4 separate regions of the Homo sapiens genome follow, and regions 2, 3 and 4 are each linked to region 1. Evidence: fine-mapped QTL for protein levels in blood plasma. A gene starts in region 1. Each other region holds a variant in brackets. All regions are shown on one strand. Distances are from middle to middle.

Region 1 (8,104 bases):
CAGGGTTTCTCCATGTTGGTCAGGTCGGTCTCAAACTCCCAACCTTAGGTGATCCACCCGCCTCAGCCTCCCAAAGTGCTGGGATTACAGGTGTGAGCCACCACACCCGGCCTTGTTTTGTTTTTTATAACATGCTGTTCCTGCTTCACAGAGAGAATGTTGTCTGACACCAAATTATAGTTGCCTACATCACTCTAAGAGAGTTAGTAATTTTTTTGTTTTGCTTCCTTTTATTTTCTTCTCTTTGTATAGTCTTTCAGGTTGCTTCTTTCTTTCTTTCTTTCTTTCTTTCTTTCTTTCTTTTTTCTCGGTTTGGTTACTTGGTTGGCTTTGACTCTAATATGTTAGAAGCTCTCCTCAGATATCCTGAAATCCTGATTGCTCATGTTTAAAAGTGAGATATTGGCCAGGCACAGTGGCTCACGCCTGTAATCCCAGCACTATGGGAGGTTGAGGTGGGTGGATCACATGAGGTCAGGAGTTCGAGACCAGCCTGGCCAACATGGTGAAACCTCATCTCTACTAAAAATACAAAACTTAGCCAGGCGTGGTGGTGTGCAACTGTAGTCCCAGCTACTTGGGAGGCTGAGGCAGGAGAATCGCTTGAACCCGGGAGGCAGAGGTTGCAGTGAGCCGAGATCGCGCCATTGCACTCCAGCCTGGGTGACAGAGCGAGACTCCATCTCAAAAAAAATAAATAAATAAAAATTAAAATTAAAATGAGATATTAAAAAGCTAAGTTGGTGGGGCTTAATTGAAAGCCTCATGGTAGGAAGCTGGTTGGCCTGTTTATGAGGGTCTAATGTCCATATGTTTGGGTCTTTCCTCCTGTGCTGGTCAGACTCCCCAGAAGAAGACTTTTTCCATCCCCAATATGGATAACAAAGCCTTTTTGTCTCATCCTTGGATGCAGGTTGGGGCCAGACAGCTGGGGATCTCAGCATTCAGAATGCATATCTTCCCTTTATTTACCTACTTTTACAATGTTTCCTATGCTTTCAGCTATGCCTGGCATCCCTCAGCCCACATCCCTAGGTTTTAATCTCTCCAGAAGACAACACTAAAGTTGTTAAGCTTACCAACCCTCTAACTTGTCAAGATCTAAAGATCGATAATATAGGCAGACTCACATCAAGGCACATTATGGTGAAATTTCAGAAACCAATGAACAAAAAGAAGATTCTACAGCTTTAGAGGCAAGAAAAGGGTCTCAAAGAAAATAATAAAAATGAGAATGGTTTTGGATTTCTCAAGAACAACACTGGAAGCTGGACGAGGGACTGTTGCCCAGGCAAGGGTAATGATGGATGGGTTCTGGGATCTAACCACAGTACTTCTCAAACAGCTTTCTTCTAGCCTTTCTTGTTTAACTCCTCTTTCACCCTCCAGTTGCAGAATACCTTGTGCTGCCATTTCCTGAGGATCTTTTTTGAGGATTTCTGTGTTAATCGTGTTATTTCTGAGTTTTCCCCACTACTGGCTTAGGGTTCTGCCATCTCCAGGCTCCTAAGGCAGCTACCACTAGTCCAGCTGCTGTCTAGCTTCCAGGGTGATTTTGCTGTTGTCTTCTCTCTGTTCTTCCCACCTTTGTGGGCTTATGTAATTTTTTTTAATCCCTGTTTTACAGCCTTTGCAGGGTTTCAGAAGAGGTCAAAATTAGATGGGACAGTCTGTTTTAAGACTCACCTTCCTTTTTTTTTTTTTTCTTTTTTTAGAGAGAGAACTTTACTCTGTCGCCCAGGCTGGAGTGGAATGGTGCAATCTTAGCTCACTGCAACCTCCACCTCCCAGGTTCAAGCAATTCTCCTGTCTCAGCCTCCTGGGTAGCTGGGACTACAGGCGCCCGCCACCACAGCCGGCTAATTTTTGTGTTTTTAGTAGAGATGAGGTTTTGCCATGTTGGCCAGGCTGGTCTCCAACTCCTGACCTCAAGTTATCCACCCACCTTGTCCTCCCAAAGTGCTGGGATTACAGGCATGAGCTACTGCACCCAGCCGAAAATTTACCTTTCAATCTCTCATTTCTCTCTAGCACTAGATTATAGTTACCTACGTTGCTTTCCAGTTCAGAAATAACCTTTTAAAATTTACTCCTTCCATTCAGCCATGTTTGTAAAGACAAAACATGTCCATTCTTGGCAATGCTTTGTTCACACTCCACTTGGAGGACCAGGACAGTATGTCAGGACATCTTTACTTCAACTATGTAGTTGGGTTGTCACGCAAAGGATGCTGAAGTGCCTCCCTATTTTCTTCTTTCTCGTTGCTGCTACTTTCTGGAACCACCACCAATGCTTCATATTTGGGAATTAGTGACTCTCATTCCATTTTCAGAAAGCTGGTGTCAACTATCCCAAGAAAGACAGTTAAGCAAACTTTGGAGAGACGAAATAGTAAGGAAATAACTTGTTCCTTAGGCTTAACTTGTCAAGCAATATTTCTGATATTTTGCATTCAATACACTGCCATTCTAGTACTGTTGTGGGTATTACTGTATGTGGGAAACAATGGTGTCATGGATGTTAGGAAAAGATGCTGGGATATATATGCCTGCTTAGAATCAGGAGAAAAGACAAATCTCCTTTCACCCTCCTGGTCAGCATAAATATTTTTAAAGATTGTTTAGATTTTTGTCAAGATTTCTTTCTCTTGATGAATTTGTCCTCGATTCAGTGGGGAGAACCAAGAGCCTCTCTTCGTTTCTCATCCTCTCCCTTCCCTCTAGTTCTCAGTTTTCCCATTTTTCTGCACAAGGACAGAAGTGGACTAGAAGATTACATCTAAGGTCCCGTTTAGCTCACGATACAGGCCCTCCCAGAGGTGGGGGTGTGGGCAGGGTCATGTTCCAAGTTCTGCCTCCCTCGATGGACTGTGGGCTCCCAGAGGGCAGAGCTAGCTCTATTCTCATGATTAAGGACATCGAGAAGGAAGGGGTGACGCTCCTAGGAGATGATTTCCCACCCCTGTCCACAAGGAGGATTGGGGCAGCCTGGAGAGGCTCAGTGCCCGCAAGAATTAAGCAGAAGTTGGGACTGGACTGTAAACTGATGCTGTCGCACATGCTTTGGTTCCTGTCCCAAGCCTCCCAGGTTGCTCCGGGTGACTCTGGCCCAGCTTCTGGCTATCCATGAACACAAGTAGTCCCAGGGAGTCATTCTGGCAGAACCCAGGTCTGCTAGCTAAGAACTCCTGAACCATCCGCAATCTCTGCCTGTGGCCTGGACTTGGTGTATGGCCGGCAGGGTGGAAGGAGAACCCACAGGGCCTCTGAAGACAGGCAGGTGGCACACCTGCGGCTGGGAGGATTTGGAAAAGGAGTCCAGCGCCATTCATTTTTCATTCATTTTCCAGCCCAACGTTTGACCTGAATGCTTCACGCTCACACTGCACACACTACTCCATTTATAATACAACTCGAGAAGGGCACATACTACTCCATCCACAGCTCAGTGAAGGGATGCATACTACTCTACTCACAATTCAACGAAGTGGTGCATCTGCCTCTAATTTACTAGCTACCCTGGGGACCTTGGACACGTTGCGTGTCTGGAAATACTGCAGGTGATGTGTGTGGAGTAGGCTGCAGGCTCACCGTCCTGCAAATACTAGCTGTACCACCACCGGCTTTAAAGTCCAACAGACCTCTGGCCCAAGTCAAGTAGCAGAGGATCCAGGGCTTGGGTGGCCCACAAATAGGATTCTTCTCCAAAACGAGGCGCATAATGGCCTTTGTCTCCTCGACAGAAAAGGGAAGGTAGACTGGCTTCCTCTATGGGCGACCTTCGCGACTCTGGAGAAAAAGACCTCATCATTCTCAGACTTGGGAAGGAAGACTAAGCCCGGAAAGGTGGGGACAAGTCCGCTCCAACGCCGCAATGGGGAGTAGTAGGGACCCAGCAACCCGGTGCCGGGAGCCCTGCACCCTGGGAGGGAGAGGCGGTCGCTGAGGCAGGAAGAGGAGGAGGAGAGAGAGGAGGGACGCACCGGGTCAGCTCGCGATCCTGCTGCGCAGGGCGGGGCTCGGGCCGGTCCGCCCGCGCGCAGGTGAGTGAGCCAGGGCGGAGCGCAGCTGCGCCGGGCTTGGGCGCCTGGGGCCGCCGCTCCCCACCGTCGTTTTCCCCACCGAGGCCGAGGCGTCCCGGAGTCATGGCCGGCCTGAACTGCGGGGTCTCTATCGCACTGCTAGGGGTTCTGCTGCTGGGTGCGGCGCGCCTGCCGCGCGGGGCAGGTGAGTGCCGGGCTTTGGAGGCGGATGGCGTGGAGTGGTGAGCTAGCCAGCCAGCGGACGCCCGGCGGAGATGCGGCCGAGGGACGCAGGGTGCGGAGGGTGCGGAGGGTGCGGAGAGAGGGCGGGGACGGCGTAGTCAAAATGCGCGGGTGGCTCCGGGACCCCCGGACTGTTCGGTTCCTGCGCGCGCCGCGTCGGGCGCGTGGGCCTTGCCCTCCTGGAGTCAACCTTGCCCTCGGCACGTGAGAGTGTCCCCGATCGGGGAGCCTCCCGGTCCGGGAGGATGAGCCCGGTGCTGGCCGAGAAGGCGGGAAAAGGAGCTCCCGGTAGCCGATCCCAGGCGACATGTCCAAGGTGGCGCGCCGTGCGCCCCAGGGTCTTTGCCGGGATTCTTGAAAGCACCCAGGCAGGGTGTGGGAAGAGATCTTTCCTCTCCAGGCTCGCCCTCTACCTCCTCGCCTGGTCCAGAGAGAAGGTGCAAAAAAAGTGCTTTCACGTCCGCATTTCCCACTAGATCCCCTTTTTCCCGTCCGCACGCTGCATTCCCCCTCTCCTAAAGTTGAAGAGCGTTGGTGCAAAAATGAAAGCGCCCGGATTTCTTTTAGGGGGTCCCAGAGAAAGCCGCCAGGCATCTGCGCCACCGCAGAGACTGGACATTCCCGCGCCCCTCGCACTTTTTGGCAGTGGACTTTGAGGGCAGGAGGCTGTTGTTCCGGGGATATGTGTGAATTTCGAGTTGTTTCGGTTGGGGGAAGGGACCAACACGTCCCAGTGACCTGTGCCAGCCAGGAAATGCCCTGTGGGCCCTGGATGTATTAGAACGTAGTAAATAACCTGGTTTCTTCATGTAAGAACTTGATGTGAGGCTAGTACAGGTTTCGCGAGATTAGTACAGGTTTTGTGTTTTTTAAATAGAGCTCTCCAGGAAGCCATGTGGGTTTGATTCCCCTTGCTGCATCTAGGGTGGATTTGTGTTTGGCAGGTGTAAATTAGATAAAGGAATAAAAGGACGCAAGTGAGGTTGAATTTGGGCGTCCCGGTGACTGCCGTCTTTACAAATACAAGACAGGAGCTTCTAAAATATCAATATAAGCTCCAGGAATACTTCCTGGTTCATTCTCCAACATCAGGTGACATATTGCTGCATAGTAGATAGAAAATTTAAAACTTCATTTAAACCATGGCATGGATTTATAAATATATATATAAATTATATATATTAAAGTAGAGACAGGGTTTCACTGTGTTGCCCAGGCTGGTCTCGAGCTCCTGAGCTCAAGTGATCCTCCCACCTGGGCCTCCCAAAGTGCTGGGATTACAGATGTGAGCCACTGTGCCTGGCTGATGAATATTTACTATAATTTCTTAGGACTGAATTTCCAAGATTCCCTTTGAAGAAAAAGAATTAGTTTAAGAATAAAAAGGAAGTGAAAATATGTGTATATGTGTGCTGAGAAAAATGCGTGCCTACCAGTCTTGGAACAGTATTGAAACTCTGGGAATTATCTGAGATGTTTTTGGCTTTCTGTGACAACAGTGGGGAACTCTTCCAGTCAGAACAGGGTGTTAATCAAGGCATTGCTAATAATGAGAGCCTCTGTTCCTGGTCTCATTTCTCCCTGTGATCTGGGAAGGCTGCCATTTTGGTCCAGTAACTCCAATGGAGTCCCTTCCAGGAAGTCCTTGACTGGCTGAGCCCTGTCTCATGGTTCAATACATAAATACGTAGAAACCTAGGAACTTTCCCTTTCGCTTTCTTAAGTTCCTCCCTATGGTCTCAGGAACTGGCCCTTTGAGGGTACATCAGGCTGAACTGAGAGCTTTTGTGGTTGGAGTAGTTGCCTGTAGTCTTGAGGATCTAAGTGGCAAAGGCCTTTGAGAAATTCCTGGAGACTGTCCTGAAAGGATACAGAAAGCCAGAGCCCTGGCACAGTGGATTTGTTTTATAAATCCATGAAGTCTCTTAACAAAGAAAGACTCAGCAGAGTAAAAATGAATTTGGTGTCACTGCAGAGATGAAAAGTAAAGGAAAGTTTGTGTCTTGGTGTCGTGTGTTTGTGTGACTTTGGTATCCCCACCAACTCCCCCATTTCCAAGAGTGAAACACTGGTTACATTGGGATCATAGCCTTTTGAAAACCTCCATTTGGTTGCTTTCTAAGAACCACTCAGATACCAGAGTCTGGGTCAGTGACCCCAATCTTGCCACCATTGTCTCTTGCCAAAAATGTGAGCAGACAGATCAAATGATATATTCACACTCCCTGGGTGAGTGTGGGTGTTCATTCTGTTTCCGATTCAAATGAGGAGCTACTGGCTGTTGTCTGGAATGTGTAACTGGTAGCGCTGATGAGTCTCCCCCATCTCCTCCCCCACATCCCCACAGATTTGCATGACTTGGAGTCAGACCTGTTAGCCCTAGGGCTCACCTCAGATGCTGCCATTTCATCTATGATGGTTGCACGCCTTGCATGTGCACACACACACTCTTCTGGGTGTTCTCCCTGGCTATCAATATGGGGGAAGGAAGTTAATAATTAAGATGTTTTAAGTAGCATATAGTTATTGTAGAAAAAGTGGCAATAAATATAACCAAAATGGAAAAAAATTATCTATAAGCAAACTGCCTTATTCACTTTGATGCAGTCTTCTTAATGTGTATGTATGCACGCTCATGTGCACAAACCAAAAATGGGATCATCCCATTGTATGGCTTTAACCAGTCCCCAGTTGTTGGACATTTAAGTTGCTTCCAGTTTTTCTTATTAAAAATAGAACACGTCCAACAATAGCCAGCTGCTTGTATCAATTTTAATAGGTCTATTCAGTGAAAAGGCACTTGAAATTACATAGCACAGACTAGAAAATGACATGAAAGGATGAACCATTATCCTCATGTTGCCAAGGTTATAAAATGGTATCAACTGGATTATCCCATTTTGATGTATCTAAGAATGTGTTCTTCAGCTGTGTTGTTCTGCACACTCTTTTTTTAAATTTTTGAGACAGAGTTTCACTCTTATTGCCCAAGCTGGAGTGCAATGGCGCGATCTCGGCTCACTGCAACCTCCGTCTCCCAGGTTCAAGCTATTCTCCTACCTCAGCCTCCTGAGTAGCTGGGATTACAGGTGTGCACCACCACACCCAGCTAATTTTTTGTATTTTTAGTAGAAACGGGGTTTCACCATATTAGCCAGGCTCGTCTCAAACTCCTGACCTCAGGTGATCTGCCCGCCTCGGCCTCCTGAAGTGCTGGGATTACAGGCGTGAGCCACCGCGCCCATGTTCTGAACATTCTTAACTATTTTGTCCAGCTACAGTTCTGGAAGCAGAGTTGCTGGGATGAAGAGTAGAGAGGCTCTTAGGGCTTTGGACGCGCATTTCCACGTTCTGGAAGCAGAGTTGCTGGGATGAAGAGTAGAGAGGTTCTTAGGTCTTTGCACGCGTATTTCCGTGTTCTGGAAGCAGAGTTGCTGGGATGAAGAGTAGAGAGGCTCTTAGGGCTTTAGTTGCGTATTTCCATGTTCTGGAAGCAGAATTGCTGGGATGAAGAGTAGAGAGGTTCTTAGGGCTTTGGATGCGTCTTTCCATGTCACCTGTGGAGAGCCTGTCCTGGTGTGCTTTCCAGCCATCAGTGTGTTAGTGCTTGTTTCTCACATTCTCCCAGGCTCTCCTCACTGTTGTTTCACCAGCATCTATGGAAGAAGCATTTTCCTCCCTCCAATTTGGCAAATAGAATCTGGACAGTGTTGCTGGGCAGACTCAAGAGTCTTAGAAGCACCACCCCAGCTGGATGGTACTAATAGCTCACCAGTGCTTTTTTGCCAAAAGAAAACAGAACTGGGTCCCTTGGCTTATAACACAAGCCTCACCTGCGT
Region 2 (8,104 bases), 59 kb after region 1:
TGTGGGTAAGGGCCTTCAGGGTCTTTGGGGACAGTGATGAACAAAAAATTGTCAGCTGGAGGATAGAGAGCAAGCCTGGAGACAAGTCAGAATCACAGATTGAGTCCTGACTGTCCATGTATCAGTCAGCTATTGCATCAATAGTGCTGAGTAACAAACCATCCCAGAACATAGTGGCTTAGTAGCAGCCATCTATTATTGCTCCAACGTTGGCTGGGCAATTCTGGTCTGAGCTGGACTTATCAGGGCTCAGTCATTCATGCACCTACTGGCAGCTGCAGGTTGGCTAGAGGACTTTGCTGATCTTAGCTTGGTGCTTTCAAAAAGCTGAGGCTCAGCCAAGATCATCTGAGACAACTGAGATTACTTGGCTTGACTCTACATGATCTCTTGTTCTCCAGCCTGGGCTGTTTTCATGGCAGAGGCAGAGAGATCCACAAGAGACTGGAGGAGGCATATAAGGTCTTTTGATACTTTTAGGTTAGGAACTCACACACCATCCCTTCGACTGCATTCTTTTGGCCAGCCTAGATTTTTTTTAGTCAATCTACCAGCATCCTTTACCATTCATCTCTCTTTTACGTAGGGGAAGTCTCTTCACACCTATGATCTTCCTCATCTACAGAGAGTAGATAATAATAGCCACCTCATAAAAGTATCATGGGATTCGGTGTCATGAATTAAAATATGGGGACCTGAAAAGTCTGACAGGTACATGGTTTTTTGTTTAGTCTCAGTGAAACGTTGGAATCCATGAAATACCCTCAGTGGGAGGCCTTGGAGCCAGGATGATGAGTTTGCCTTTATTCCTCAAAGTCATGGGCACCACTAAAGGGTATCAAGCAAGGGAATGCAGGTGTGGCAGGGCAGGCTGTGGTGGGGCCATGTCTGCCCTTTACTCAGTGAAGGCACCGAGCATCACAGTGTCAGAATCAGAAGGGACTGTGGAGGCTGCTTTTTTCCCTTTCCCTTTCTGGGGGTCAGAGTGATTGAAGGTCCATCCAAGCCACACAACTGGTTAGCCTCAAGAGAACTGGTGGGAGCCAAATGCCACAAGTGAAAACCTCTCCACACTCATAGATTATATCCTGGGTTTTCTTCCTCTCTTAGATTCATTTTCTGTCATTTCTTTCCATTCCTCTTTCCTTTGGATCTCACCTTTTGTTTTCTTGGTGAATAAGCAAGACATTCTAATTCGCTGTTTGGTACAGGGTTCCCCCTCTGATTTATTTTCTTTTTCCTTTGTGCAGCTGCAGGAAAAGGACAGCACAAAGGAAACAACCCTCCCTTTAGCTGCCTCACTTCTGACTTTTGACTCCCTGCTTTCTCCTACCCTCCTCTGCTCTTCTCTTCTCCAAGACAGGCTGTGGCAATCAGTGGAACACACCTGTTGTAGGCCAGGAGTAGCCTTTGAAGTTGATCTGGTAGGTCCCTCAGTTTGTTTCAATTGTTCATTGCTATATACAAACTACCCCAAAATTTGGTGGCTTTGGCAATAGCTATTTTGTTTACCCACGATTTATGGATCAGGAATTCAGACAGGGCACAGCAGTGTATCTTATCTGTGCTCCAGGATATCTGGGGCCCCAACCAGAAGCCTTGAACAAGTAGAGAGGATGGCTTGGAGAATTCAACTGGAGACATATGTCTATGGCCTTTGGTTCTCACTGGGTTGATTTTTTTCCCCGGTGGAATCTCTACATGGCTAGCTTGGGCTTTCTCACAGCATGGTGGTCTCAGCATAGTCAGACTTCTTACATAGTAGCTGGCTTTCTCTCAGAGAGAAAGTGCAAGCTGACATCCTCTTAAAAGTTAGGCCCAGAACTGGCACAGTTGCCTTATATTGGCTGACCCAGATCCAAGAGGAAAGGAAATAAACACTTTGTGATATGAGGAGCCCCATGTGCACACAAGGAGCCACATGTATGGCGCTCCACCTTTGGAGAGATGGCAGCTGCTTTTGGAGATGCCTCAAGTTCATTGCAGAGCT[C/A]ACCCCAGCTGCCTCTTCATCTGTCTCTTTATGTCTCTGCTCACAGACTTGACTGTCATCCTCATCGCAGCGGTGGGAGGTGGAGTCTTACTGCTGTCTGCCCTCGGGCTCATCATTTGCTGTGTGAAAAAGAAGTAGGTGGAATCTCTTACTCTCTTTATCTGATTTGATGCCTCCTCAGATCACACAGACTGGGTGGATTGTTCATTATTGACTTTGTTTTCTTGCTTCCCATTTTTTCCCCCAAAGATCAATGTTAAACAATATTGCCAGGTGTGAGTCATGCTTTCAGGAGAAAAAAAATCCCATGCCTGGGGGTGAGGGGGGGATAAAACACACGTGACATTTTCACCTGTATGTAGTTCATGGTGCAGCTGCCTCAGCACAAGTCCCCTGCAAGCAGAGTGCTGTTTGCTCAGTAGATTGATCAAGCAGGAGTGATCTTGGCAAGAAAATGCTCACGTAGGCTCTGCCAGACTGTGCCTCTGAAACCACTCCCTCCGTCACCCTAAGGAGAACGAATGTGTGTTGTCCCAGCTTGTTCTCCTGCAGTTTCTTAAGCAAACTGCTTTATCCTTGCCTGTTGGGCTCCAGGTATGTAACAGAGGCCAGGCCTGTGGCCCAGAGGAAGGAAGGCCCAGTTAACTGCCTCAGTCTCTCTTTCCATCCCCTCAGGAGGACAACTTCTGTTTTATTTATTTATTTATTTATTTTTGAGACAGAGTCTTGCTCTGTTGCCAGTGGTGCAATCTCGGTTCACTGCAGCCTCCGCCTCCTGGGTTGAAGTGATTCTCCTTCCTCAGCCTCCCGAGTAACTGGGACTACAGGCACACACCACCACGCCCAGCTAATTTTTTTTGTATTTTTTTGTAGAAACGGGATTTCACCTTATTGGCCAGATTGGTCTTAAACGCCTGACCTCAAGTGATCCACCCACCTTGGCTTCCCAAAATGTTGGGATTACAGGCATGAGCCACCGTACCTGGCTGAGCTTCTATTTTATAAAAGGAAAATGTTGACCTTTTTAGACAGAGTCCGTGCTGCCGCCAAACTGTATAAATTCTGCTCATATTTCTGACTAAAGTCATGGGAGAGAGAAGAGAGCTATTTTCCTTAACATGGTTTGACCTTCCAAAAAGCCAATCTGAAAAAATTCTTTTTTTTTTTAAGACAGAGTCTCACTCTGTTGCCAGGCTGGAGTGCAGTGGCGCGATCTCGGCTCACCGCAACCTCCGCCTCCCGGGTTCAAGCGATTCCCCTGCCTCAGCCTCCCGAGTAGCTGGGACTACAGGCACCCGCCACCACGCCCAGCTAATTTTTTTTTGTATTTTTAGTAGACACAGGGTTTCACCATGTTGGCCAGGATGGTCTCGATCTCTTGACCTTGTGATCCACCCGCCTCGGCCTCCCAAAGTGCTGAGATTACAGGCGTGAGCCACCACACCCAGCCAAAAAATTCTTTTTTAAAAATTAACTGTGGACCTGAGCAAAGAACTGAAATTCCTAGTCTACAACAAGACTGTCTACAAATGTCTCTGCTGATGAGGAAGGACTGGCTTGCAGGAGGTCTTTTCCCCATGAGAAGTGGCTGTACCTATAACACATGGGGGAAAAAGGACTGCTTTTAAGGAAACATCATGTTACTGTTTCTCTCAGGGAATTTTCCCATCTGCGGTGCACGGAATAGCCCACCCAGTTGGGGAAGCATGGCATTAACACTGGGCCCCAGGTTCCTTATCAGGAGGGAATTGGACAAGGAACGAGATCCAGCACTTGCCTCATCTTGAAACAGCGCCAGTTTAAGCCTGAGAATCGTCAGTCCAGCCTTGCTACAGGCCTTGCTTGTGTGAGGCTGCTGGCTGGCAGGTTTGCATAAGGCCTGTCCGTGCCCAAGCTGTTGTAGGAGGATGGACAGGTTGTGCAGTGAGAATGAGGAGAGACAATGCCATCTAACATGTTCACTAAGCGGGTACTTCCTGAGTGTCTCCTGGGCACTAGGATTCATTGAGGTACTGGGGACAATGATGAGTGAGACAATCTCTTCTATGGGGGCAGGGGGACTGAAAAGACAGGCAAATAAACAGTCAGTTTCAGGATAGCATGAGAAGAGCTTTAGTGGGGACAAACATTACAGGGCTTCAGGCAGGAGCCTTAGGAACCCATCCTCCTGGCCAGGGGCTCAGCGTTACAAGCTGAAGGTACCAGGTTTATTTTTATCTCAGCAAAGTACAGACAGCCTGTCCACCATTATGAACTGCCAGCCTGTGCCTTATATGGCCCATTACGCTAATTGAGCTAATGTCCTCCATTTGCATCACTGGTCAGCTAAAAAGTCAGCATTCCCTGCTGTTTGGTTCACAAAGATGGAGAGCAAAGCTTTGTTTTCTGTGGCAGCAAGCGCTAATGCCCATGCAGGTCCAAGTACCAAAGAACATTATAAACCAAATGCTAATGGTGTTATTGAAGAACTCTGGCACTGCAGCCTGAATTTTGTCTTCTTTTTAGCTCTTTCCTCTGTTGGGGGTGACTACTGAGGCACTGGGTCTCTCTGCTAATGCTGAGTTATCCTCTCCCCAGCTCATACTGAAAACTAAGATACAACCTGGCCTCCTGAGTCTCTTGTATCGCCATTTAAAATCTAGATGGTCAGAGCTTTTCCCAGGCAAAAGAGAGATAAAGCATGAGCTACGGGAAAGTACTAAGAGTGCGGGAGGATTGACCTAGGCATGACTGAGCCTGATGTGGTTGAGAAGGTCTGGGACACTGCCCATTTCTGGTAGAATGGAGGGGAAAGAGATTGTCAGATGTCTCCACCATTGGATACCGCATATCTATCAAAAACGAATTGAGCACAGATAGTGATAGAGGTGCCCTCTCTAAACCACTCTTCTACTACCTGTGATCTCTGTTTCCACTTTGAAAACTGGAGACAAAATCAGGTCCCTTCTAAATGTTCACTGAGGACAGTAGTTTCAGTTTCAAATGCTGAGCAATCTGAGGGATTTGGGGGAGACATGGTCAGAACCCTAAAGAATCCAAGCTCTAGCAGGGCCATAGCAATGGTACCCATCGAAGATTCTTGCCTTTCTGACTTCTGTCTTGTTCCATTTTTCCAAATAGGAAAAAGAAGACAAACAAGGGCCCCGCTGTGGGTATCTACAATGACAACATCAATACTGAGATGCCGAGGCAGCCAAAAAAGTTTCAGAAAGGGCGAAAGGACAATGACTCCCATGTGTATGCAGTCATCGAGGACACCATGGTATATGGGCATCTGCTACAGGATTCCAGCGGCTCCTTCCTGCAGCCAGAGGTGGACACCTACCGGCCGTTCCAGGGCACCATGGGGGTCTGTCCTCCCTCCCCACCCACCATATGCTCCAGGGCCCCAACTGCAAAGTTGGCCACTGAGGAGCCACCTCCTCGCTCCCCTCCTGAGTCTGAGAGTGAACCGTACACCTTCTCCCATCCCAACAATGGGGATGTAAGCAGCAAGGACACAGACATTCCCTTACTGAACACTCAGGAGCCCATGGAGCCAGCAGAATAACTTGATCCATTCCAGACGCTTTGCTGAGTTTCATAAAGCAGGGCACTGAGACACCCGTCCGTGTTCCTAACCAGAAATCCTAAAGAAGAGGAATTATACAGAAGGAACAGCAGGAGGTTTTCCTGGACACCGCCAACTTCACATTGCTCAGTGGACTCATTCTAAGGGCAAGACATTGAAAATGATGAATTCCAATCTGGATACAGTCATGACAGCTCATGTGCTCCTCAACTTAGGCTGTGCGGTTAGCCAGCCTGTAATGAGAGGAGAGAGGCCTGAGTCACCTAGCATAGGGTTGCAGCAAGCCCTGGATTCAGAGTGTTAAACAGAGGCTTGCCCTCTTCAGGACAACAGTTCCAATTCCAAGGAGCCTACCTGAGGTCCCTACTCTCACTGGGGTCCCCAGGATGAAAACGACAATGTGCCTTTTTATTATTATTTATTTGGTGGTCCTGTGTTATTTAAGAGATCAAATGTATAACCACCTAGCTCTTTTCACCTGACTTAGTAATAACTCATACTAACTGGTTTGGATGCCTGGGTTGTGACTTCTACTGACCGCTAGATAAACGTGTGCCTGTCCCCCAGGTGGTGGGAATAATTTACAATCTGTCCAACCAGAAAAGAATGTGTGTGTTTGAGCAGCATTGACACATATCTGCTTTGATAAGAGACTTCCTGATTCTCTAGGTCGGTTCGTGGTTATCCCATTGTGGAAATTCATCTTGAATCCCATTGTCCTATAGTCCTAGCAATAAGAGAAATTTCCTCAAGTTTCCATGTGCGGTTCTCCTAGCTGCAGCAATACTTTGACATTTAAAGAGAAATTTAGAGAATATTCTCATCCTCTAAAAATGTTTAAATATATACCAAACAGTGGCCCCCTGCATTAGTTTTCTGTTGCCACTGCAACCTATTACTTGGTAGCTTAAAAACAACACATTAGCTTATAGTCCTGGGGATCAGAATTCCAAAATGGATGTCCCTGAATGAAAATCAAGGTGTCAGCAGAGCTGTGCTCCTTCTGAAGGCTCTAGGGAGAAGCCGGTTCCTTGCCATTTCAAGCTTCTAGAGGCTGGCTGCATTCCCAGGCTCCAGTGGCTGGTCAAGCTTTTCTCACATGGCATCACTGTGACACTGGCCCTCCCACTTCCCTCTTTGACTTACAAAGCCCACCAGGAAGATCCAGGATAATCTCTCCATCTAAAGTTCCTTCATCATCCTGGAAGAGCCTTTTGCCATGCAAGACAACATAGCCACAGGTGGGGATTAGGACCAGAACATCTTTGGGGTGCTGTTATTCTGCCTACCACACCTTCCTGCCACTGACTCCCACAGGAGAGGCTACAAAATGATCTGGCGCACAGGGATGTTTTGTTTAGCTTGCGGACTCTAACACTTAAAAAAAAACCCAGATCAGAAGATCTGGCCATGCTGGGGCTCACATTCTCACCTAGCAACAACTGGCTGGAGCTGGGCACCAGCTCTGCCTTTAGAAGGGGTGTCCACTTCACCAGGTCACCACAGCCCACACTACGCCCTATCACTTCCCACAATGAGGCTGAGTGTTTGTTTCTACTGATCAATGCCCCTGCAGGTTGCATTTATTGTAATGAAAAAGAAAGACTGGGATTAATCTCTAATCAGGTGAGTAGACCATGAGACCAATGTGTGCTCACATTACCCTTTTTCTTTTTTTTCTTTTTCTTTTTCTTTTTTTTTTTAATGTGAGACAGGATCTCATTCTGTTGCCTAGGCTGGAGTGCAGTGGCGCAATCTCGGCTCACTGCAACCTCTGCCTCCTGGGCTCAAGCAATTCTCCCACCTCAGCCTCCCAAATAGCTGGGATCACTGGCACAAACCACCATGCCCAGCTAATTTTGTATTTTTTGTAGAGACAGGGTTTCACCATGTTGCCCAGGCTGGTCTCAACCTCCTGGGCTCAAGCAATCCTCCTGCCTCGGCCTCCCAAAGTGCTGGGATTACAGATGTGAGCCACCGCATCCAGCCCCACACCCTCATTTATACCAATTACCTGCCCAGTAACTGTGGACTTTTGCTTCCTCACCCCTGCTCTGATCTGGAAGGAGAGGGATTATGTTATAGCTTGTCAGCACAGTCCCAAGTTCAATATTTCTGCGGCAAAAACTTCCTTCAAAAAATAAATGTACTTCATTGTATTCAATGAATTCACCTTGGAAATGCACCGCCTCAACTTGTTCACATGGCATAAATGAAAGGAATTTTATAGTCTCCTAAATGGCGTGTACTGCAAGACCTCTTGAACACTTTCCAGAGGATAGGATATTTAAGTCATGCCCTTGGCGTTGCCTATGGCACCTTTCCCTTCTGAAAGTCTGGTTCCTGCCCAGTGACCCTTGGCCTTGTGAGCCGAGATGCTGACCCTGCATAAAGGGCCAAAGGAGGGCTGCGGCTTCCTTCCCTCACTGAAGAGCCCTTATTTGAATTCACTGTGTGGAGCCCTAGCCCTCCATTCTCGACATTCCCCAACCTCCCAGCCCCTTCCAAGCAGGACTAGGTGCCCTGCATTCCACCCAAGGTGG
Region 3 (8,104 bases), 49 kb after region 1:
AACAAGAAATAAACCCTTGTTATACTAACCATTCAGATTTGGGGATCATTTGTTGCTGCAGCATAATTTAGCCTCAGCTGATTTACACACTCCCTCAAGGATATCATGAGGATGAACAGCCTAACATTGTAATTGATCCTCTACCATATACCAGTTATGTGGAGCCATGAAGTTCACATTCTGGTGGGAAAGATGAACAAGTAAAAGGAAAATCATGACTTCCTGTTAAAGATGGCTTTACTCCCTTCATACACCCTACTATAATGGGTTTTCTTAGAACATTTTTAAAGCATTTTAAAACATTTTTAAGGTACAATTTTTTTGTATTTTTAAAGACATAAAATTCAAGGAAGAAAGAGAAATAGAAAGGAAAAAATATCGTATAACATTTCATAGAGTAGAAAGGTGGTAACTGATCCAGCAGATGTGAAAGGGCAGAATCCTAAGCCAACAGTGGGAAAAACCAAGAAGAAATCTGCTTTATCCTGCAAAGCCTCAAGAATTGGCAGCAAGTCTCCTCCAGAACTGGGGGCAAATGTGGGGCTAAGGTGGGAAGAGCCACTAGAGCCCCAGATGGTCTCCTTGCCAACAAGCAGCCAAACAACTGTTCTTCCCTGAGCTGACAGAAGAGAGAAGTTTCTTTTCCTGAGATGAGAGTCCCTGAACCAAAGATCCCAGTCACACTGAAGGTGGAGGTACTAAGCTGAACACGGGGGATTGAGTAAAACTGAAGTACTGAGCATGAGGCTCCATCCTTCCTTCCCTGGTGCCCATGGGTATGTTTCTTCCCTTCGGTAGAGAATGACTTCTTCTCTGGGGGCATCTGACCAATCTAAGAGAAAAGACCCAAAGATATTGATGTTATGGGCTCCCCAGGAAGCAATCTGGCCATATCACCCTACTGAGAAGCCCAGTCAACAAGCAGAGCTATTCCAAATAGCATTAGTGCCTCACTTTAAATAAGAGCAGTATATAGATCCCCAGACATCTGGTGAAGCCTAATGAAAAATACAAAGACTAAAACAAATGAATAGAAGAAAAGCCACTTGCAGGAAACAGAGACTATAGAGGGAGAAAAAACTAAAAATCAGCTATCAAGACTCTCAAGTTAATAAGAAGAGATGCTGCGTTTATGTAAAAGGAACCGGTTGTAATTTTTAAAAAGGGCTTTCAGGAGAAAGCTCGTTTTTAATCTCCAAGAGTTCAAAGGAACTCTTGGAGATTAAAAATATGTTAGCAGAAATGAAAGAGTCAAAAGGGCTGAAAGATAAAGTTGAGGATATCTCCCAGAAAGTGGAGTGAAGAAAAAGCCAGCGCGATAGAAAGAAAGAGAAAATATAAAACTCAAGGACCAGTCAAGGAGGCCCAATATCCGGATAGATGGAGTTTTACAGAGAAAAAATAGAGGGAAGGGAATCATCACAAAATATTTCAGGAACATTTGCCAGGACTGATGGATATGAGTTGCCAACTGGAAGGGGCCACCACACACAATGGATATAAATAGACCCACACCAAGGCACAGTATTGTAACATTTCAGAATATCAGGGACACAGAGACCCTACAAGCTTCTAGAGAAGAGGTAAAAAAGTTTTATACGGAGGAAGAAGAAACCAAATGGCAACAAACTTTATCAGCAACACTGGGTATTATAAAACAATGGAGTAAGATCTTCAAAGTTCTGAAGGAATATTATTTCCAACCTAGAATTTTATACCAAGCCAAACAATTAAGTGTGAAGGTGGAATAAAGACATTTTTAGACCTACAAGATCTAAAAAAATTTACCCCCATATATACTTTCTCAAGAAGCACCTGAAGGCTGTAATCCACCTAAAAAGAAAGTAAAAATTAAAAAAAAAAAAAAGAAAAGAAAAGATGGATCCAGGAAGCCCAGGATCTAGTCCAAGAGAGAAGCAAAGGGAATCCCATGATAACAGTGAAGGAGATCCAGGATCACACCTGAGCACCAGGCATCAAGAGCAGCCCCTTTAGATTAGAGCATTGAAAAGGCTCTGGAGAGATTTCTTAAGAAGTTGAGGAAGTACCTAATGTTTTCAAATTTATTGAAAGGAGATTTATACAAGTGGAAGAGAGTTTGGGTATCAAATTATTGATAAGTACATAGAAACTAAGGAAATGATTAAAATGATAATAATTCACTACAGGGAACACAAAATTTTATGCAGAAAGGAAAAATCATTATAGCATGCAATATAGTGTAGCTACCTAAACACTGTTAATATTATTACATAGTCACGATTACACAAACATAGAATGAAGATCTAGCTGAAAATATGACGCTAACTATCAGGAAGATGGGAGAATGGGAATGGGAAGTGTGTGTGGTGTGAGTGTTCGCTAGTCTGTGCTGTGTTGTGGGGGTGTGGGGTGTGGAGGGGGTGTGGGGTGAAGGAGGAGAAATCCACATCTTCCTGAGTGGGAAGCCAATAGACAGTGCCTGAAACTGAAAGATCCATAGGCAGCAATGGAACGGAGTGTGTTATTGAGCAATGGAACAGAGCATGTTTTACTGCGGTTATCCCAGGCTCCTCCCCTGGGGTAACCACAGTCACGGATTTGTTATATTTCTCTCCATATCTTTTTTCTCTTCATCTGCATACATAAATCTGTACATATAAATAGCTGTTTTGTTTCACAGATACTCAGGAGGCTAAAGCAGGAGAATCGCTTGAACCTGGGAGGTTGAGGCTGCAGTGAGCTATGATCACGCCACCGCAGTCCAGCCTGGGTGACAGGGTGGGACTTTGTCCCCCAAAATAATAATAATAATAATAATAAAGGCTGAGAATCTCTGCTTTAAAGTATGTGCATGCATGGCTTTGGTAAGATGGAAATGAGGGAAGAGCGGGTGGGGAGACCACTGCAGTGTGTGGCGGGGCCTTGGTAAAGGTAAGCAGGGACTGCAGAAGCAGAGGGGCTTCTAACACGGCTTTGGGGTGGGGAGGTGTCCTGCAGGTAACAATGAAGGTGAGTTTTGAAAGACAGTAAGAAATGAGCTGGATGTGGGGCCAGGTGATTGAAAAGCTGACTATTTTCCAAATCAAATTATATTTAAGTTAGCAGCATTAGAATATATACTTCAGCTCTAGACATGGCATCTCTCTAATTAAAGCACTATTGGATGTGATGTCAAAATTTACGTGGAAAATAGACAGCAAGAACTACAGCAGGCAATTAACAGATATGACAGCCATAAAACATTTTCCTAATTGTGCTACTAATTTGACACCGAGCTTCCCTGCAGCCAGTTCAAGAGGAGAGAGTCCATCAATTATATGGTTCCTGTTATGAGGAAGAAGGAAGTTTAGCAGGCCTTTTTGGAAATAGAGCTTTCCCAGTTAGAATTGAACTCATTCGCCGGCGCTGATGGGTGATATTGTCAACACCCTTGAATTGCAAAGTTAGCACCACTTTGCACAGGCGCCTTCCTAATCTGATGGGCTTTTTTTTTTTTTTTTTTAAACAAAAGAATGAATGAAATTCAAAAGCAACTCAGTACAAGTTGATCCCCAGGCATCTGTGGTGTAGAGCTTTCTAGGGATAACATTAAAAAGTGAAATGAGTCTTTTATAAACCAATCTGGTAATCTATTCTAAAGAGTTGAAAAGGTATCCCTATTCTTTTTTTCTTTTCTTTTCTTTCTTTCTTTCTTTTTTTTTTGGAGACAGAGTCTTGCTCTATTGCCTAGGCTGGAGTGAAATAGCGGGATCTCGGCTCACTGCAACCTCCACCTCCTGGGTTCAACCGATTCTCGTGCCTCAGCTTCCCGAGTAGCTGGGATTACAGGCGCCCACCACCATGCCCAGCTAATTTTTGTATTTTAGTATTGATGAGGTTTCACCATGTTGGCCAGACTGGTCTGCAACTCCTGACCTCAAGTGATCCACCCGCCTCAGCCTCTGAAAGTGCTGGGATTACAGGTGTGAGCCACCATGCCTGGCACTGTTCATTTATTTCTAATGGCAAAATTATAGAAATCACCTAAATGACCAATAATCCAGCAGTTTTCCAAATGATGCAAGAAATAGGTAACTATGTTCTTGTTAGAAATTTAAATATTATAGGCAAAGCTAAAATCCTCCTTGACCACTCAGTCTGTCTTTACTCCCAGGCCCCTCCTCTGGGGTAACCACAGTCACGGATTTGTCATATTTCTCTCCAGATCTTTTTTCTCTTCATCTGCATACATAAGTCTGTATATATAAATAGCTATTTTGTTTCACGGAGAGATTTTACCATCTGCATTGTATCATACTCTACATATTATCTACAACTTGCTGTTCTGCTCAATATTTATATTTAGGTTTTCAAATCTCCCTCTTTTTTTTTTTTTTTTTTTTTTTTGAGACGGAGTCTTGCTCTGTCACTAGGCTAGGGTGCAGTGGTACAATCCCAGCTCTCAACAACCTCCGCCTCCCGGGTTCAAGCGATTCTCCTGTCTCAGCCTCCCAAGTAGCTGGGATTACAGGCATGTACCACCACACCCAGCTAATTTTTGTATTTTTAGTAGACACGGGGTTTCAACATGTTACCCAGGCTGGTCTTGAACTCCTGACCTCAGGTGATCTGCCCGCCTCGGCCTCCCAAAGTGCTAGGATTACAAGCGTGAGCCACTGTGCCCAGCCTCCCTCATTCTTTTTAACAGCTCCGTAATATTCCATTGGTGAATGTCCCCATAGTTTATCTATTCCAGTATAAGGTGGTCTCTAGTTTCCCACAATCACAGTGCTGCAGTTAAACGTGGGCACTCATGGCCATGTCACACTGTTTGGTTCCCAGAAGAGACAAGAGTTCATTCTTTTACTAATTCCCATGTTTCTGTAACAGGGTGTTCCAGGCTCCCACTGGCCGTGTGCCAAAGGGCCTGTTTCCTGTAGCCTCTCCAGCTTTCAGTATTGCCAGACATCTACATTTCCCCCCATCTGAGGAGTGGGATACAGTAACACTTTGTTTTAACTTGCATTTTCTGATTACAAGTGACATTAAGAACTTTCTATATTTTAAATATTTAGTCATTTATATCTCCTTTCCTGTGAGCTGCTCAATCATTCTATATTGCAAACACTTTCTCCCGACGTGTCCCTTGTCCTTTAACCTTATTTGTAGCACCTATCATCAGACAGATATTTTAATCTTTTTTTCACTTTTATAATTTGTGTTTATGCCACATTTTTAATGATTTTCTCTTTGTTTTTATTGTAGTGAAGTCCATTATTTTTCTTTTTAACTGTCTTTTATAGTTATTGTAATGTTGCCTTAATAATACGTTTTCCCAACATTATCCATCCATGGTCTGATATGCCATTTTCTTCCTCAGGAGAGGTTTTCTACCAATTTTTGCCATTTCCCGTGTTGCTGCTGATCCATGCTTC[A/C]TGCCTGTTTTCTGTTTGTGGTTTCAGATAAAATCTACGTGGTTGACTTGAGTAATGAGCGAGCCATGTCACTCACCATCGAGCCACGGCCCGTCAAACAGAGCCGCAAGTTTGTCCCTGGCTGTTTCGTGTGTCTAGAATCTCGGACCTGCAGTAGCAACCTCACCCTGACATCTGGCTCCAAACACAAAATCTCCTTCCTTTGTGATGATCTGACACGTCTGTGGATGAATGTGGAAAAAACCATAAGTACGCCCCTGAATCAGTGCATTTGTCCCTGGCCATGGATAGCTCTTCTCTCCCCGCCTTGCCTTAGTGGGGTTCCCTGGGTAGGTTGTAAATCATATCAAAAAGGCCCATCTGGCCGGGCACGATGGCTCACGCCTGTAATCCCAGCACTTTGGGAGGCCAAGGCTGGTGGATCACTTGAGGTCAGGAGTTCAAGACCAGCCTGGCCAACGTGGTAAAACCCCATCTTTACTAAAAATACAAAAATTAGCTGGGCATGGTGGCAGGCGCCTATAATCTCAGCTGCTCAGAAGGCTGAAGCAGGAGAATGGCCTGAACCTGGGAGGCGGAGGTTGCAGTGAGCCGAGATTGCACCACGCACTCTAGCCTGGGCAACAGAGTAAGACTCAAAAAAAAAAAAAAAACCCCACCCACAGTGCAGGTGAGCAAGGGTGACCAGGAGGCAAGCAGAGTGGGTGTCAACACGTCCCTTTGGACCAGCCTCAGGTAGAGCCTGCAGCCCTCAGAACTGTGTCATACTGCCCCATGTTCAGGCTTATGTCTCTCTGCCCAGCCTTCCAATCTTCCTCTTGTGAGATCCTCTCCTCTCTTGCTCAGACTTCCCCAGCCTCTCCCATCCCCATCCCCCCACACCCCACACCCCCACTTCCACACTCACTGCCCTCTTGTCTTCTCTCACACAAGACTGTGATTCCTGAGGTCAAGAACTTTGACTCGTTCTATTTTTCATCCAGTTAGCCCCTACCGGTGCTGGACATGCACTAGTCACTTGAAAAATGTTTGATTGGCCAGGCACAGTGGCTCATGCCTGTAATCCCAGCACTTTGGGAGGCCGAGGCAGGCAGATAACTTGAGGTCAGGTTATCAGGCAGATAACTTGAGGTTGGGCAGGCTGGTCTGCCAACATGTCTGCCCAACATGGCGAAACCCCATCTCTACTAAAAATACAAAAAATTAGCCGGGCATGGTGTTGGGTGCCTGTAATCCTAGCTACTCGGGAGGCTGAGGCAGGAGAGTCGCCTGAACCCGGGAGGTGGAGGTTGCAGTGAGCCGAGATCGCACCACTTCACTCCAGCCTGGGCAATAGAGTGAGACTCGGTCTCAAAAAAAAAAAATGTTTGATGACTGAAGGCCAGTAAACCAACAGCCACCTCCTTGCTGGGCTACCATGACTTCTGATGTGTGCTCTTAGTTCAAATGCAGGAACTAAGGCCACAAGAGGCAAAGTAGCCTGCCCAAGAACACCCTATTAGGAAGTGGCAGAGCCAGAAGACGAACTAACATCTCCCCAACGCCACTCACAGCTCCAACCACTGCCCAGAACTGCCTCCTGAGCAACACGTCTGGGTGGAGTGAAACCTGTGCCCTGCCCCATGACACTTAGCATCTAAGACACAGATACACAGAAGAAAAACTTAAGCAAAAAAGGAGAGGAAATTTCAACCCTGAGTACTACCCAGAAGTTTGTTTGCCAGCTTAGTAAACAGTAAGAATGTTTACTAAGAGAGCAGAGGGACCGCTAGAAAAGGAACACAGAGGAGCCAGAAGCAGAGGGCAGGGTGGGAGAAGAGAGACCGAAGGGAAACACAGGGCAGCATGCAGACACCCAACCTCAGGCTGACGGGAGAGCTGGGGAGGGTGCACTTCTGGTCTCCTTTGTGCATGGCTAGCATGCCCCACTTCTTCCAGGCTGCACAGACCACCGGTACTGCCAAAGGAAATCCTACTCACTCCAGGTGCCCAGTGACATCCTCCACCTGCCTGTGGAGCTGCATGACTTCTCCTGGAAGCTGCTGGTGCCCAAGGACAGGCTCAGCCTGGTGCTGGTGCCAGCCCAGAAGCTGCAGCAGCATACACACGAGAAGCCCTGCAACACCAGCTTCAGCTACCTCGTGGCCAGTGCCATACCCAGCCAGGACCTGTACTTCGGCTCCTTCTGCCCGGGAGGCTCTATCAAGCAGATCCAGGTGAAGCAGAACATCTCGGTGACCCTTCGCACCTTTGCCCCCAGCTTCCAACAAGAGGCCTCCAGGCAGGGTCTGACGGTGTCCTTTATACCTTATTTCAAAGGTAAGGGGGGTCTCCCCTATCTCCATGCCCCTTTAGTTTAAGCGTTTATTTGATTTTAGTTTTGTGATCACCTTAATTAAGTTGCCAGTTTGGAAAGAAGGGATAGCTCAATATGCTGGTCCTTGCACAAGAAATTTGAAAGATAGTGAGTCCTAATCCTGACTTTACCATTAACCTAGCATGGAAAATTCCTGAGATTAGAAATAAAAAATGTTTCTGACAGTGAGAGGCGATGGTTGGTAGGCAGCAAAAACATTATCAGGTTTGAGTCTTTTTTGGAAGCAGGCAGGACGTAAATGAGAAATAGCCAGATATTCCCCAGTCCCGGATTTTTAAGGTAGTGACATAAAAATCCTTAGGCAGACATTTTTATGACTCTGCTTTTACAA
Region 4 (8,104 bases), 35 kb after region 1:
TTTATAATCAGTTAAACCAATAAAGTGACTTCCACTTTGAAAAAGGAAAAATGTAACAAGTGACACATTTCACAAGTCAAGCCTTTGAATGCATTCAGTCTCTCAATCCTAGGATGCCCACATGGCTTACTATGTAGTAAAAACCCATGCTCACAACTTTTGAAAATGATATGAAAATATCAATTTCTAAAATAATAAATCTAGACACTGAATCAGGTCCAGTGGTCCACCTGCCCTTCATTGCCTTTTCTGAACAATCATTCTGAAATCAGCATCAGATAAAATTTGATGTCTCCATTCTCATCTCTTCTTGAATAGTTCCATGAGAACTAATGAAAGTTGGCTGAGCATGGTGGCTCATGCCTGTAATCCCAGCACTCTGGGAGGCTGAGGCAGATGGATCACCTGAGGTCAGGAGTTCAAGACCAGCCTGGTCAACATAGTGAAACCCCTACTAAAAATACAAAAGAAATTACCCAGGCATGGCAGCACACACCTATAGTCCCAGCTACTTGGGAGGCTGAGGCAGAAGGATCACCTGAACCTGGGAGACAGGTTGCAGTGAGCCAAGATGGTGCCACTGCATTCCAGCTTGGGTGACAGAGCAAGACTGCATCTCCAAAAAGAAAAAAAAAAAAAAGAGAGTTAATGAAATTAGAAATCTGCTGGGGAAAATGAGTTTATGAATCACTTCAGAAATAATACTTCTCCATCCTCTGGACAGGAATCATTTTAGTTATTTAAAATGTTTTCACTGGACAGAGTACAGGAGAAGATTCCGAGGCATGCCAATCATTTTGACTACTCTTACCTGTGTGTTCATCCTAAAAAACAAAGCTCTTAGCATCAAATGAAAAATTGCTTTCATAACCTGACTCTCACAGTGTCACATGGCTGCTGACAGAGCTGAGGCTGGGAGATGGGGCTTTTTGACTCCAGATTTTACTATAGAATTAAATCAGAATCCCTGGGATGGTCCAGGCATGTGTAGTTTTTAAACGGCCTGCAGGTGAGTTGTAGGTAGAACCAGAGCTAAGAGTCACTGCCTTACTAGAGTTAAATGTTTCCACAAGAGTACAGAACCTAGCCAGAGCCAACTGATGTTGCCCTGGGCACACTGGAGGTGTGCGTGGAAAATCACTTGAGGTCTGCTTTTGAAAGAAAGAGGTGGCTTGATATAAACATTGAAGTTTCCATGAGCTCCTAAAATAGGAACTACCTTTACTAACACGCAAAGTCTAATTTTAGTCACGTTAGTCACCATGTTATCTAACCCTGTGTTATTGGTTAGACAGCATAGCGCATTGGCAAGAAAGGGCTGACCAAACACAGCCTGAGCTTTCGTCCTGGGATCTGGAATTGCCGTGTACTTGCTGCAAGTGCCAGCCCAAGTCACCTGGATCCACAGCTGCTTTGCAAAAATTAGAGGTCTGGCTTGGATGACCTCAGAGATCCAAGACTGATCTGAAATTCTCCATAATTCTATTTTGAGTGGACAATACTTTCAAATACCCCAATAGAACAGCAGTAAAGATTCACAAATTATTATTATGGAGGCCAGAGTCTATCACACCTTTCAGATGCCCCCTGCTCAAAACAACAAAACCTTAATGTTACATTGCCTACTTTCTGTTTCGTCCCCTCACTTTCCTCTTGTTTTCTCTTTGATAATATTTCTTGCTTTGTTTTAAAAGGCTTAGGAAACAAATATATCAAAGGATGTTATTAGCTGTTAGCCTTAAAAAAAGAAATTCAACTGCAGTGGTTATAAAATATCAGCATTAAGGCAGTGCAAGAAGAGAAATGGCGCCGCCAGATTCCAGCTGTCCAGGGGAGTTGCACGTTCAGAGTATATTTGCTATGTTGATGAATGTGTTGATGGGGAAACCAGTTTTAAAGGATGGATCTTGGCACTGTGCTCTACAAATTGTGAAATCGTGACTCTCTTAGTACAGGAGAAGTAGGAGATCCCAAAGCACAGACTCTGCTACAAATGCCTTCCTTCTGGCTTCACCCACTGGACCCCAGGAACTTAATCTGGAAATCACAGTAGTTAAGAGATGTCTCAAGTCTGGTGACCTGGAAGCAGAGCCTGAGACAGGATTTTTTGTTTAAGTCAGTGATCAAGAAAGTGCTCTCAGAAGTGAGGAAAGCAGGATAGAGCAGGGCACGTAGCTGAATGCAGATGCGGTTTTAGCTGAAGAGTAGCTTCAGCCTGACCCCATGGGGAGCTCTGGAGTATGAATGGCATACCCAGGTTACATCACTTGAAGCAAGGAGGTCAGACTTTTTAATTCCTGCAGGAGGCCATTATTGGCTGTAGACAGCACCTCTCCCTTGGGATGGGCATGAGGGGCTGCAACACCTCTCAGGCTTTTCTGGTTCAAGGCAGCTCCCCCGAGCTGAGGCACTTCCCCGAAGGAGGGTACATCTGTGAGCCATTGGCCACTAAGACTCACAGCAGTTGGGGCCTGGGTGCCCCTGCCTGGTAAAGGCCACCTTGGGGGAGCCCCAAAGAGTCTACTACAGGGGGCTGAGTGGTGGAGGAGGAGTGGTGTGGGGCCTTGGAGCATCTGTGATCAAAATTGCTTCTGTGACTGTTTTTCAGACTGTATGTCAGGCCCATGTCCTTTTGGGGAGGTTCAGCTTCAGCCCTCGACATCGTTGTTGCCTACCCTCAACAGAACTTTCATCTGGGATGTCAAAGCTCATAAGAGCATCGGTTTAGAGCTGCAGTTTTCCATCCCTCGCCTGAGGCAGATCGGTCCGGGTGAGAGCTGCCCAGACGGAGTCACTCACTCCATCAGCGGCCGAATCGATGCCACCGTGGTCAGGATCGGAACCTTCTGCAGCAATGGCACTGTGTCCCGGATCAAGATGCAAGAAGGAGTGAAAATGGCCTTACACCTCCCATGGTTCCACCCCAGAAATGTCTCCGGCTTCAGCATTGCAAACCGCTCATCTATAAAACGTGAGAAAGCCCCTCCCTGCTATCTGATTAGGTTAAAACACACAAGATCATCATTGTTCTAGGTCAGAAATGGTCAAATGTCAGCAAATCTCTAATACTCAATATAAAAACCATAAAGGAAGATCTAGCTCTCTTATAAGTGACATGGGTCATGCATTCCTAGTGTGAACCCCCTCTTCTCTATTAAACAAACGGGGTGATTCTCTTTGTCCTTTTTGCATGTGATACTTGTTTTCAAAAAAATGACAAGGGATTGGTTCTACAGACCCACCTTGATTGCTTCATTTCTAACTTCTTTGTCTTCCATCTCTTTCACATTTTCTGTAAACGTATCAGTGATGTGCAGAGCTCACTCACACTGGCTCATAAAAGCTGTTTTTTGTTTTTATTTTTGTTTTTGTTTGTTTTGAGAAAGAGTCTCAGTCTGTGGCCCAGGCTGGAGTGCAGTGGCACTGTCTTGGCTCACTGCAACCTCTACCTCCAGGTTCAAGCGATTCTTCTGCCTCAGCCTCCCAAGTAGCTGGGACTATAGTCGTGCGCCACCACACCCAGCTAACTTTTGTATTTTTAGTAGATACGGGGTTTCACCATGTTGGCCAGGCTGGTCTCGAACTCCTGACCTGAGGTAATCCTCCTGCCTTGGCCTCCCAAAGTGCTGGGATTACAGGCATGAGCCACTGCACCTGGCAGAGAGCTGACTGTTAAGTGTTCAGGCATTTTGTGAGCTGATGTGAAACAGATCCGTTATAAAAAAATAGAATTAAATTAACATAATTAAATAAATTATTTTTAAAACAAAGGTAATAAATACTCAAAACTCATCACTTCCTAATTATTTTACTGTTGCCTGTGCTTTCAGGGTTATTTGTGTTGTCGTATCTGTATGGAGGGAATAATATAAAGGTGTGCTACTGCCCAACTCCACATTCAGTCACCTGGTGTTGGTAGCTTGAAATCAACCGTGGTGGGATTATTTACATCCACTATGGAAGTGGGCAGACGCTATAAGTCAGGGCTCTCCCCTCTACCACTGGACCGGTTTTTAATATTTACTCGCACACCACTGATGTGTCTGCATTCCCAATCTCTGCCTTGAGTCCAAATATACAGTATCTAGACCCACTGCTCAGGATCTGAGAACTGCAGTCATTTTTCCTACACCCCCACCCCTCGGCTGCAGACAACCAGGACAGGGTCTAATGGCTCCCTATTCTTTCTGGTTTGGGTTCCACTCCCACTAGGTCTGTGCATCATCGAGTCTGTGTTTGAGGGTGAAGGCTCAGCAACCCTGATGTCTGCCAACTACCCAGAAGGCTTCCCTGAGGATGAGCTCATGACGTGGCAGTTTGTCGTTCCTGCACACCTGCGGGCCAGCGTCTCCTTCCTCAACTTCAACCTCTCCAACTGTGAGAGGAAGGAGGAGCGGGTTGAATACTACATCCCGGGCTCCACCACCAACCCCGAGGTGTTCAAGCTGGAGGACAAGCAGCCTGGGAACATGGCGGGGAACTTCAACCTCTCTCTGCAAGGCTGTGACCAAGATGCCCAAAGTCCAGGGATCCTCCGGCTGCAGTTCCAAGTTTTGGTCCAACATCCACAAAATGAAAGCAGTGAGTGAGCCCCACTTTCCTTTTTCTTCCTCCTCCAGCACCTTCGTTGTTTCCTGGGTAGTCTGCCTGGGTGAGGCTCCCTTCCTGTTTCTCATCTGTGGCTTCTGAAACACTTAGACTCTGGACCCAGCAAGAGTTTCAGGAAGTGGGTTGCTAGGCAGTTAGACAGGCTTGTTGGTGAACACCCGGTATGTAGTTCCATTTCAGCACAATAAAAAGAAATCTTGCATTCAAGATGCTAAATTGTTTTTAACGAAGGCATTGAAAGGTCATTTTTCTAGATCTTATGTCTTGACCCTGCAATGTGAATGAGGATGTCACCCGCACCATCAGCGATGATGATGGGAACTTACAGTTTTATGGCTCAGCACCCCTACTATGGACACAT[A/G]CTCTGCATGTCATCTTGTGTTAGGCACGCCACTTACACAATCTCAGCTAATCTTTATTGCAACCCTGTAGGGGAGGTGGGAATTATCTTTATTTACTAATGAGAAACCAGAAGGTTCAGAGAGGTTATGGAACTGGCCTGACATCACACAGCTTGTTAAGAGCAGAGCAAGCTCAGAACCCTGAGCCTGTGCTCTGGCCCACACTGAAGCCCAGTTAGGATGATGAGAATTAGGTTGGACATCATTCCACAAAAGTTGCTGAGATGCCATGAACATAGAAAAGCGGAGTTAAGGCCAGGACTAGGGTAAGGCAAAGTGCCCAGGGTGCAATATATAAGGAGGTACCCACTCTCAGGGTCATGTACCTGCAAGGTCAGCCCCTGAGAGTGAGCACCTCCTTAAACTTTGCTCCCTAGGTGCCTGGCTTGCCTCACCCCAGTCTTGGCCCTGAGGGGTGTCGTGCAGATTTTGAGATAAAAGATACAAAATTAACTCAGACTGGCTCTTCCTGGGCCTCATGCATGATGTGAAGGAGTGAGTTGTGGCAAGTGGTCTCCAACCAGGACATTTCTGATGTGTGTTGCTAAGGATGGACGCTGTTCAGAGGGCTGATTCTCATTCTTGTTTTTACTATTATTTACTTCTAGGAAGTAGGCAGAGCCAGGCAGAAAAATTAAGTGGGAGTGTGGAATGGCGTGCTGCTGTTTTTTGTAGGGCTGATAAGCATCTGAAAAGTGGCAGTGTGGGATCCACTAGAGGGATTGCCCAACTGGTGCTGCCCTGGAAACGTCCATATGTATGTATGTATAATGTGTGTATAGATATATATACAAGGGGCCGGGCACGGTGGCTCATGCCTGTAATCCCAGCACTTTGGGAGACCAAGGCAGGCAAATCACTTGAGGTCAGGAGTTCGAGACCAGCCTGGCCTACGTGGCAAAACCCCGTCCTACAAAAAAGTCAAAAATTAGCCAGGCATGATGGCGCGCACCTGTAATCCCAACTACTTGGGAGGCTGAGACATGGAAATTGCTTGAACCCAGAAGGCAGAGGTTGCAGTGAACCGAGATTGGGCCACTGCACTCCAGCCTGGGTGACAGAGTGAGACTCCATCTCAAAAAAAAAAAAAATATATATATATATATATGTATACATGCATATATATATATATGTATACATGCATATATATATATATGTATACATGCATATATATATATACATGCATATATATGTATACATGCATATATATATATACATGCATATATATGTATACATGCATATATATATATACATGCATATATATGTATACATGCATATATATATATACATGCATATATATGTATACATGCATATATATATGTATACATGCATATATATATGTATACATGCACATATATATATAGTGTGTGTGTGTGTGTATCCATTGAGACATTTTTATGATTCCACTGTCACAACTGTACAATCAGAATGTTGAAAACAGCCACAAAAGGATTTAGAAATGGAGTGGGCTTGGGGTTTAGAAGACAGGGGGATTTGTTTATCACCTCAGTCATGGTGGAATGCTGCTTAGAAGCTCTGATTAATTCTGCTAACTGTAACATCAGCTGGGTTGATTTCTAAAACTAATCAAATTGTTAAACGTGCTATAAACAGCATCAAGAAGGACATGGATTTAGTGCTGAGATTAAAGGGCAATAACTGCCGTTGAGAGGTGTTTAGCAGTGTCAAGCCCTCTAACTTTGCACTGTTTCTAGCGGAGTGAGTGGACTTGGCGGCAGAAATATCTTTGGGGATAAATTTAGGTTGGGCTGGACTGCCTGAGAACTCTGATCTCTGGGCAGCTTCATCTTGATCCTCTGAACCTCTATGTGGACCCTAAATTTCAAGGGCTAGCCCAAGGAAGCCAGTCCTGTGCCCCTACCTGTTTGTCTGACCCATTCTTTTTTTTTCTTTTTTTTTTAGGCAGAGTCTTGCTCTGTCACCCAGGCTGGAGTGCAGTGGCGTGATCTCGGCTCTCAGCTCACTGTAACCTCCACCTCCCAGGTTCAAGCGATTCTCCTGCCTCAGCTTCTTGAGTAGCTGGGATTACAGGCGCCTGCCACCACACCCAACTAATTTTTTGTATTTTTAGTAGAGATTGGGTTTCACTATGTTGGCCAGCCTGGTCTTGAACTCCTGGCCTCAAGTGATCCACCCGCCTCGGCCACCCAAAGTGCTGGGATTACAGGTGTGAGCCACCACTCCCAGCCCTCATTCTTTATTCTCTCTCATTTGCTAAGTGTTTGTAGGCAGCTTGTATTGCTGGCAGCATAGCCCCATTAAGGATAATGACCTGGAGTTGGCCTGCATGGATTTGAATCTGGTTCCCCCACTTACTTTGACCATGGGCAAGTCACTTCACCTCTTTGTGACCCAGTTGCTCATCTGTAAAGTGGAAGTGGTAAGACTGTCCTCATCGGGGTGTTGTGAGGACAGTGTGAGGTAGCACAGTGCCTGGCAGGTAGTGAGCGCTCTTTAAATGTTTCCTGCAGGGTTCTAGGTCAAGGCAGGCATGCAGGGTTAGAAAAGACACAACACGGGCCGGGCGCGGTGGCTCATGACTGTAATCCCAGCACTTTCAGAGGCCGAGGTGGGAAGATTATAAGGTCAGGAGTTTGAGACCAGCCTGGCCAATATGGTGAAACCCCATCTCTACTAAAAATACAAAAAATTAGCCGGGCGTGGTGGCAGGCACCTGTAGTCCCAGCTACTCAGGAGGCTGAGGCAGGAGAATCGCTTGAACCCGGGAGGTGGAGGTTGTGGTGAGCCAATATTGTGCCACTGCACTCCAGCCTGGGCAACACAGCAAGACTCCATCTCAAAAAAAAAAAGAAAGAAAGGAAAGAAAGACACAACACTTGTTCAAACAAAGAGATTAGACTGTGGCTCCAGAAATGATTGGTAGGATGCAGCAAGTCACTCATGGAAGGAATTCCAATGGCATGTGGTGAGGTTGGAGGCAGGAGAGTGGACCGCAGCTGGTAGGAATACTAAGGGGAGACTCTGGGCAGAGTCTGGCCCTTCTCAGGCTGTGCAGGAGGCCCCATCTGTGCCAATGGTGTGTGCCGCTCATGATCACTGGAAGAGCTCTATGT

Alleles and levels. Alleles are on the strand shown, and positions count from the first base shown. The strength of an association depends on the size of the effect and on how common the allele is.
In carriers of allele C in region 2, the plasma level of the protein whose gene starts at base 4,055 in region 1 tends to be higher than with A alone (moderate association).
In carriers of allele C in region 3, the plasma level of the protein whose gene starts at base 4,055 in region 1 tends to be higher than with A alone (weak association).
With allele G in place of A in region 4, the plasma level of the protein whose gene starts at base 4,055 in region 1 is lower (moderate association).

Evidence for each region. PIP is the posterior inclusion probability: the model's chance that the variant is causal. Protein levels are from antibody-based Olink assays in UK Biobank. Linkage for the fine-mapping came from a reference panel and not from the study's own genotypes, which makes the PIPs less certain.
Region 2: its variant is fine-mapped to the plasma level of the CDCP1 protein (UK Biobank, PIP above 0.99).
Region 3: its variant is fine-mapped to the plasma level of the CDCP1 protein (UK Biobank, PIP above 0.99).
Region 4: its variant is fine-mapped to the plasma level of the CDCP1 protein (UK Biobank, PIP above 0.99).

Annotation. Positions count from the first base shown.
Region 1 is chr3:45,142,329-45,150,432 of GRCh38, reverse strand. It overlaps CDCP1 (CUB domain containing protein 1), which reads left to right and starts at 4,055. Exons shown (of 9, transcript NM_022842.5): 1 at 4,055-4,227. The coding sequence starts at 4,146.
Region 2 is chr3:45,083,074-45,091,177 of GRCh38, reverse strand. CDCP1 (CUB domain containing protein 1) reads left to right here. Exons shown (of 9, transcript NM_022842.5): 7 at 1-5; 8 at 2,037-2,124; 9 at 5,111-8,104. The coding sequence ends at 5,540. Among named protein-coding and RNA genes, the nearest start is that of CDCP1, 59 kb to the left of the region's middle. The variant C/A (reference allele first, on the strand shown) is at 1,991.
Region 3 is chr3:45,092,888-45,100,991 of GRCh38, reverse strand. It overlaps CDCP1 (CUB domain containing protein 1), which reads left to right. Exons shown (of 9, transcript NM_022842.5): 5 at 5,424-5,645; 6 at 7,335-7,715. Among named protein-coding and RNA genes, the nearest start is that of CDCP1, 49 kb to the left of the region's middle. The variant A/C (reference allele first, on the strand shown) is at 5,397.
Region 4 is chr3:45,106,950-45,115,053 of GRCh38, reverse strand. CDCP1 (CUB domain containing protein 1) reads left to right here. Exons shown (of 9, transcript NM_022842.5): 3 at 2,609-2,971; 4 at 4,213-4,581. Among named protein-coding and RNA genes, the nearest start is that of CDCP1, 35 kb to the left of the region's middle. The variant A/G (reference allele first, on the strand shown) is at 4,970.